Regions from separate parts of the Homo sapiens genome. Here region 1 is linked to region 2. Evidence: fine-mapped expression QTL. A gene starts in region 2. The other region holds a variant in brackets. All regions are shown on one strand. Distances are from middle to middle.

Region 1 (4,381 bases), 26 kb after region 2:
CTGACGCCCGTGCACTTCACACCGCTAGACAGCTCCGTGGACCGCGTGGGGCTCATCACCCGCAGCGAGCGCTACGTGTGTGCCGTGACCCGCGACAGCCTGAGCAACGCCACCCCCTGCGCTGTGCTGCGGCCCTCGTGAGTCACCTGGGAGGGGAGGGAAGGGACCACTCGGGAACCTGCGGGGCGGTCCGGCTTTGGGGCCAGTAGGTCCCCAGGAAGGCCCCTGATCAGAGTCTCCCGCCTTCGGCCTCACCGTAGTGGGGCTGTGGTCACCCTCGAATGCGTGGAGAAGCTGATTCGGAAGGACATGGTGGACCCTGTGACTGGAGACAAACTCACAGACCGCGACATCATCGTGCTGCAGCGGGTAAGAGTCCCACCCCTCCCCTTCCCCCAGCACTCCAAGGCCCCGCCCCTCCCCTTCACCCCCTCCAAGGCTTCGTCCCCTCCCCTTCCCCCAACTCTCCAAGGCCCCGCCTTCTTCTCTGCTCTGTAAGGCCGCCCCCCCCCCCCGCTTTCTCCTGCAAGGCCCCGCCCTTCCCCCCCTCCGCTCTCCTAGGCCCCGCCTCCTCCTTCCTTTTCAAGGCCCCGCCCCTTCCCTGCCTCCAGCCCTCCACGGCTCCACCCCCTCCACACGCTCCCTCCCAAGGCTCCTCCCCTGCCACTCTCTACCCTCTTCTCTGCGCCCTGCGCCCTGTCCATCCGTACCCACTGCGGTCGCCTCGCCCCCTCCCCAACTCCTACTCCTTAGCCAGCAACCCGCTTCACCTTGACCCGCTTAGGAATCCCCACTACCACCTGGAGCCCCACTGGTCACCCCCGGGCCGGCCTCTACCTCGTCCTTCTCTCTACCTCCCCCAGGGCGGTACCGGCTTCGCGGGCTCCGGAGTGAAGCTGCAAGCGGAGAAATCACGGCCGGTGATGCAGGCCTGAGTGTGTGCGGGAGACCAAATAAACCGGCTTGGGTGCGCAACGACGTGGCGCCTTCATTCGCGGCGTGGGCGCCCCGGGGACAGGGCAGGCGAGGATGCAGGGCCGTGCAAACAGTGCTCCTACAGCGCACGCTGGAGTTTGAAAGAGCGGGCTAAGCATATTGAATGTGGTCTCACATTAAGAACAAAATCTGGCCAGGCACGGTGGCTCACGCCTGTAATCCCAGCACTTTCGGAGGCCGAGGCTAGCGTATCACTTGAGGTCAGGAGTTCGAGACCAGCCTGGCCAACATGGTGAAACCTTGTCTCTACTAAAAATACAAAAATTAGCCGGGCATGGTGGTGCGCACTTGTATTCCCAGCTACTCCAGAGGCTGAGGCAGGAGAATCGCTTGAACCCAGGAGGCGGAGGTTGCAGTGAGCCAAGATCGCACCATTGCACTTCAGCCTGGGCAACAGAGCGAGACTCCATCTCAAAGAAGAAAAAAAAAAAAAAACCTGAATAGAACGCAAATGCACAGCATTAAAATTGGTTGAGTGGCCGGAAGTCCAAGTCTAAGCCAAGACCGTGTGAGTGCGCCACTTTAATGAGCTACATAGAAATTTCTCGAGTTCTTTGTTAGGGTTCCCGGATTTTTGCCAGGTTTGAAGAACAGGAAATGCCCAGGAACGTGTCTTCCGGGCTGCAGTGTGATTAGACCCACAAAGGAAGTGCAGTTCTGTGAAAAAGTGCGCAGCACCCGGACTAGGAAAGGCGGTCAGGAGCATCACGCCCCCACCTGTGGCAGCCTGAGGGGGAAAGGAAGAGGAAACCGCGAGTGCAAAGGCCCAGAGGCAGCAACGCACTTTGCAGATTTAAGGAGCAGAGGGCGTACAGGGGAGAGTGAGGGAGCCAGGGCAGAGCGGGGACCAGGAACCAGCCCGGTGGCGTCAGACTTGACTGGGAATGTAGGGGCTGTCCTTAAGGCCTTGTGTTTAATAACCATTGAGTCACAAAAGCAGCTGCTGGGCAGTGTGAAAAACAGCACGGAGACAAGCAAAGATTAAAACAAGACAGGCCGGGTGCGGTGGCTCACGCCTGTAATCCCAGCACTTTGGGAATCTGAGGCGGGTGGATCACTTGAGGTCAGGAGTTCAAGACCAGCCTAGATAGCCGGGTGCGGTGGCTCACGCCTGTAATCCCAGCACTTTGGGAGGCCGAGGCGGGTGGATCACGAGGTCAGGAGTTCAAGACCAGCCTGGCCAACATGGTGAAACCCCCATCTCTACTAAAAATACAAAAATGAGCCGGGTGTGGTGGCCGGCGCCTGTAATCCTAGCTACTCGGGAGGCTGAGGCGGGAGAATTGCTTGAACCCGGGAGGCGGAGGTTGCAGTGAGCTGAGATCGTGCCACTGCACTCCAGCCTGGGCGACAAAGTGAGACTCTGTCTCAAAAAACAACAATAACAACACCAACAACAA[A/CAAA]AAACACAGCATTCCTGCCTCGCAGAGCAATGCCACCTAGGTTCTGTCCTTCCTGTTCTTTATGTGAGTACACATGAGGTTTCAACCAAAGTGAATCACAGTGCATGCACCATCCTGTTCAGTGAGTAATACTTTTCCACTCCCCAGGCTGGAGTGCAATGGCATGATCGAGAAGGCACAACTTGAGCAAAGTCACACGTGCTCGAGGGAGTGACGGAAGCCAGGTTCCCCCAGGAGCCAGTTTCCTCTGAGACGCCCCCAGACTTTGTCCTGGACTTCCCCCATCCTTCATGTCCTCCCTCCCCTAGAGACCCACTGGCCTCTCCACCTCCACAAGCTCCCACCCCATCCCTCCATACCCAGAGTTCCATGTCATACCCTTTCCTTCCACATCCCTAATCCTTGTCCTCTTTCTCAAGACCTCTCAACCACCCGAGTCCTTCCAGCTTTCTCAGCCATCTAAGAACCCCAGTCTTGTTCATATGTTGAACAGATCACCGGTGCCCCCAGTAATAACCTGAAGGGTTTCTAATCTTGCACCTGTGTTTTCCCAAAGGAACTCAAACACCACTCTGTTCACAGACTCTTTGTGCAGTGCAGGGTGGGGAGGTCAAAGTCCTGGCTCCAATCTGTTCTGTCATTTTTTTTTTTGTTTTGAGATGGAGCCTTGCTCTATTGCCCAGGCTGGAGTGCACTTGCGTGATCCTGGCTCCTGCCTCAGCCTCCTGGGTAGCTGGGACTACAGGTGCTGCCAGCACAGCCAGCTGGTTTTTGTTTGTTTGTTTTGTATTTTTAGTATTTTAGTAGAGATGTAGTTTCGCCATGTTGGCCAGGCTGGGTTTTTTTTTTTTTTTTTTTTTTTTTTTGAGACGGAGTCTCGCTCTTTTGCCCAGGCTGGAGTGCAGTGGCGCTATCTCGGCTCACTGCAAGCTCTGCCTCCCGGGTTTACGCCATTCTCCTGCCTCAGCCTCCCGAGTAGTTGGGACTACAGGCGACCACCACCATGCCTGGCTAATTCTTTTTTGTATTTTTAGTGGAGACAGGGTTTCACCGTGTTAGCCAGGATGGTCTCGATCTCCCGACCTCGTGATCCGCCCGCCTCGGCCTCCCAAAGTGCTGGGATTACAGGCGTGAGCCACCGCACCCGGCTATCTAGGCTGGTCTTCAACTCCTGACCTCAAGTGATCCACCCGCCTCAGATTCCCAAAGTGCTGGGATTACACATTTGAGTCACCTCACCCTGTTCTGTCATTTAAGGTTCTAAAGTACTTGGAGAGGAAGCAAGAGCAGAACCACAGCTTCAGCCGTAGCAGAAGAAAGAGACGGGAAGTGAGACAAATCTTGTCTTTTTTGAGCAGAGTTTCCTTAGACACTGGTCTAAAGTTTAGAGCAAGACCTGGGCTTGGTGGCGCTGATGGCAGGCGTGCCTGCCGAGGGCTCCAGTTTCAAGAAGCTCACAGGCAGCGCGTCCAGAAAATTACAGTTACTTGTAAAGATTTAAAAACGGGCCAGGCGTGGTGGCTCACACCTATAATCCCAACACTTTGGGAGGCTGAGGCGGGCAGATCATGAGGTCAGGAGATTGAGACCATCCTGGCTAACAGGGTAAAACCCTGTCTTTACTGAAAATATAAAAAATTAGCCGGGCGTCGTGGCATGCGTCCGTAGTCCCAGCTACTCAGGAGGCTGAGGCAGGAGAATTGCTTGAACCTGAGGCAGACGTTGCAGTGAGCCAAGATCGCGCCACTGCACTCCAGCCTGGGCGACAGAGTGAGACTCTGTCCCAAAATAAAAATAAAAATAAAAATAAAAATAAAAAAATAAAAACGGGCCAGGCGCAGTGGCTCACACTTGTAATCCCAGCATTTTGGGAGGCCAAGGTGGGTGGATCACTTGAGGTCAGGTATTTGGGACCAGCCTGGCCAACACGGTGAAACCTCATCTCTACTAAAAAAAAATACAAACTTAATCGGGTGTGGTGGCAC
Region 2 (4,381 bases):
CACTTACACAGCCTGTATTCTGTGCCAGATACTGTTTACCTATATAAACTCATTTTACTTTTTTTTTTTTTTGACATGGAGTCTCGCTCTGTCAGCCAGGCTGGAGTGCAGTGGCACAGTCTCAGCTCACTGCAACCTCTGTGTCCTGGGTTCAAGCGATTCTCGTGCCTCAGCCTACCAAGTAGCTGGGATTACAGGCATGCGCCACCACACCCGCTAATTTTCTTTTTTTTTTGAGACAGAGTCTCGCTCTGTCACCCAGGCTAGAGTGCATTGGTGTGATCTCCGCTCACTGCACACTCCACCCCCCAGGTTCATGCCATTCTCCTGCCTCAGCCTCCCGAGTAGCTGGGACTACAGGTGCCGGCCACCATGCCCGGCTAATTTTTTTGTATTTTTAGTAGAGATGGGGTTTCACTGTGTTAGTCAGGATGGTCTCGATCTCCTGACCTCGTGATCTGCCCGCCTCAGCCTCCCAAAGTGAATTTTCATATTTTTAGTAGAGATGGGGTTTCACCATGTTGGCCAGGCTGGTCTTGAATTCCTGACCTCAAGTGATCTGCCTGCCTCAGCCTCCCAAAGTGCTGGTGCTGGGATTACAGGCGTGAGCCACTGTGCCCGGCCTCAACTCATTTTACTTTTCACAGGAGTCATACAAAAATTAGCCAGGCGTGGTTGTGGGCGCCTGTAATCCCAACTACTTGGGAGGCTGAGCCAGAATAATCACTTGAAAGGGGAGACAGAGGTTGCAGTGAGCCGAGACTGTGCCACTGCACTCCAGCCTGGGTGACAGAGCGAGATTCCATGTCAAAAACAAAACAAAACAAAACTTTTCACAGGAGTTTTTTTTTTTTTTTTTTTTTAGACAGAGTCTCGCTCTGTCACCCAGGCTGGAGTGCAGTGGCGCTATCTCAGCTCACTGTGACCTCTGCCTCCTGGGTTCAAGCGATTCTCCTGACTCAGCCTCCCGGGTAGTTGAGATTACAGGTGCGCACCACCACGCCTGGCTAATTTTTTGTATTTTTAGTAGAGATGGGGTTTCACCATGTTGGCCAGGCTGGTCTCAAACTCCTGACCTCAAGTGATCCACCCGCCTCGGCCTCCCAAAGTGCTGGGATTACAGGTGTGAGCCACTGCGCCCGACCAGGAGTCCTATTATTATCCCCAGTATAGAGAACAGGAAACTGAGGCACAGAGAGGTAATATAGCTTGCCGAAGGTCACACAGTGTGCAAGTGTGAGAGCCAGGATTTCAGTGAAGGCAGTGTCCGCCAGAGAAGAAAGCAAGGAGCAGGCAGCTTATCTTTCTTTCCCCACTGTGTCTACAGCACCTGACACAGATGCTTATAAACATGTCCACTGGTGATCTGGAGTCTTCCCTTCCTGGTAATTTCCACTTGTGCCTCTTTCTGTGCTCATTGTCACATCCACCCACAGACAACAAAGATTACGAGAGAGGCAGAGGCAGGGGATTAGTTATATTATTGGGTCTAGGGACCTAAGTGGGCAGGGGCCCTGGACTCCTGGGCCTAGGAGCCCCAAACTTCTGGGTCTCGGAGGGGCGGGGAGCCAGGATGCCTGGGTCCCCAAGCCAGGCTCTTCCTCCAGGGACATTCACTTACCTGCCCAGAAATGTGAGCACTGCCCCTTCCTCTTTAATCGAGAACTCCTTGGCCAGCTACAGCCAGCTGTGAAAGGGGACAGGGAAGAGGGGAGGGGATAAGGAGGAGGGGCGCCCCACTCCCGGTAACCAGGCCTGATCCCCGTTTCTGGCAGGTGGGCGGAACTTGCCATTACCTGCCCTGGGCGGGACTCAGGTAAGGGACAAAGTATTTAAAGGGACCTTGGGATAAAGGACTTAAAGGCCAGAGCTCCATGAGGAAGCCAAGGTGTCGAATACCATGGGATACCTGGGGGATTAGATTCGACCCTCCTCCTCCCTCCCGACCCCTACCCGCTCTGGCTCTCCCCTGGGAGTTCGTCTGTCCGAGCTAGAAAAATTAATATCTAGGTCTCTAGGTATCTAGAAACTAGCGGGAACGATATGCCTTAGTCCCTGGGACAGCTGGGCAGTGCCGCAGTAAATCCCTGTTTCCTGAGAGCGACTTGAACGGCTTTGATTTTCAATTTCCCAATGGCTCTGTCTGTAAAATGGGAGCGTAGTTGTCTCTTCTCAATTGTTTTAAGATGCAGCAAGAAAAGTGGATGATATATTTGGGAAAGTGGGCTTCCCGATCTCTAGGGGAAGTGATTAGTCCTTAAATTTGGGCTTGGAGAGACTCAAAACCTGGGAACCAAGCAGGAAAAAACGATCTCCCTGGGAAATGCCTCGTACATAGTAAGCGTTCCCCATATTCCCACCAGTTTCAATATCCGGAACTTTCGATTAGCTACTCACGTTTCCGGAGAGAGAAAGAGAAGAGAGGACTTGAGCAAGCCAGGCGAGGCACTTCCGCAACTAGGGGCAGCTCTACTTCCGGTGCCTTCTGCTGGGCGGAAGTGGGCGGAGCGGAGGGGGAAAATAGTGCTCCTTTCCGGTGTCGGGGCACAGTTGAAGAAGCGACCGAGGGACTGGGAGTCGTTAGTGAGGTGAGTTCGAGGCGGTGCAGGAAGAGTGTTGCTGGGATCGCTTTCCTGCGGGCTAGAGGCCTGGGGTCTTGAGGGAGACTGGGGCAAGATTTTGGATTCCCGATTCCCTGTCAATCATTATTAATACAGCTGTCCGGGCGCCCCAAGTTTGAAGCTGAACTACACTCTGCTGGAGGTGGCCAACCGTCCATCGGGCAGTTCTCTCTCTCTTTGTCTCTCTCTCTCACTATAAACTCAGTCAAGTGGTAGCTAGCATCGGCCAGTTCTCCTGAGAGTTACAGTTCTGCTGTAGATGATGGCTATTTGCTGGTGGTCCCAAGGGAAGGAGTGGACTGGGATTGCTGGGGGTCTAAGGAGTGGGAGTTGAGGAGGGAGAACTCCTTTCCTGGCCTCAGTTTCTCAGACTGTGGTGGGACGGCGGGCGATACTAGATTGTGCAGTCATCCATCGCCACCTTCTCTTCACCTTTTTGACAGCCCCTTCCCTTTCGGGGTTGGTGCAGGGATTCACGTTTTCTTGTGTGGAGCTTCGGGGTCAGGCAGTCATGGATTCCCATTCTGATTGTGCTGCTAATTCTGTGAACTTGGGGCTTGAACGGTCCTTGAGGCAGTTTGATGTTAATGTTTTCTTACGAAAATGTTCAAACTTATATAAAAGTGAGAGAAGAATACAGGAATTCCTGTCACCCAAATCACCAATGATTATTTTTGCCATACTTGCTGTATTTTTTTAAACTTAAAGAGATTAAAACAAATCGTAGGCATCATGACACTTAAGGATTGTCAAAAGACAAAATTGCAACACATTTAGTGAGAAGATCTTAATTGGCATTTATTCGTGAATCTACAATCAAACAACATCTAATTATGGAAAATAGCGTGAGTGTTCCGATGAGCTGAGCAGAGGTTGTTTTCAGAGACAAAGGGCTGAGAAAATCAGAAACGGAAAACAAAAAGCTAGTTGATTAAATTGATTAACTTGATTAAATTTCTAAGTTAAAGGTTAAAGTAGAGGGGACTTCCTTTATCAGGTGGGCTAAAACTGGGTTGTTTGGGGATTTGGCTATTATCTCTCTCCTGATATCTCAGAAGATCAGATATCAACTTAGTTTTGGCTTGGAAGCATGGAACTTTAGCATGAGTGTCTCCATTTTGGTTTGGTCTGTTGAACCTAGTGCAGGAGCTCAATCCAAACCAATGACCTTCTATAAATTTTATCTAACAGGGTGCGTGTGTAAAAACCAGAAACATTGCTGATATGACCACAATACCATCATCACACTTTAAAAGAACAACCGTAATTCTAGACTACTATCCATTACGTGGTGCAGAGTCAAGTCCAGTGTAACTGTGGGTTTGTTGGAATCAGGATATAGTTAAGTAATTGCTATCGTCTTTTACATCTCTCTTAATTTAGAACTGTTCCCCCTTCCACTCCACTTTGGTTATTTCTTGGTGTAATCGATTCATTGAAGAAACTAATTCTAGTTCAGTTGATCATCCCACCATCTGAATTTGTCCCGTTTGCTTTTTTGTGGTCTCATTTTACCTGCTTCTGTTTTCTTTCTTTTTTTTTTTAAGTATTTAAAAATAGGCCAGACACAGTGGCTCATGCCTGTAATCCCAGCACTTTGGGAGGCCAAGGCGGGCGGATCATGAGATCAGGAGATCAAGACCATCCTGGCTAACACGGTGAAACCCCTTAGCCGGGCATGATGGCAGGCACCTGTAGTCCCAGCTACTCAGGAGGCTGAGGCAGGAGAATTGCGTGAACCCGGGAGGCAGAGCTTGCAG

The links. PIP is the estimated chance that this variant, and not a neighbour inherited with it, causes the effect.
Region 1: its variant is the best candidate, but not a certain one, in a credible set for the expression of NOSIP in testis (GTEx, PIP 0.53).

What each region holds. Positions count from the first base shown.
Region 1 is chr19:49,552,305-49,556,685 of GRCh38, reverse strand. NOSIP (nitric oxide synthase interacting protein) reads left to right here. Exons shown (of 9, transcript NM_001270960.2): 7 at 1-137; 8 at 261-369; 9 at 864-1,218. The coding sequence ends at 935. Among named protein-coding and RNA genes, the nearest start is that of NOSIP, 26 kb to the left of the region's middle. RefSeq lists an enhancer at 1-634. The variant A/CAAA (reference allele first, on the strand shown) is at 2,397.
Region 2 is chr19:49,578,722-49,583,102 of GRCh38, reverse strand. NOSIP (nitric oxide synthase interacting protein) reads left to right here and starts at 2,547. Exons shown (of 9, transcript NM_001270960.2): 1 at 2,547-2,588. It overlaps PRRG2 (proline rich and Gla domain 2), which reads right to left and starts at 1,787. Exons shown (of 7, transcript NM_000951.3): 1 at 1,622-1,787.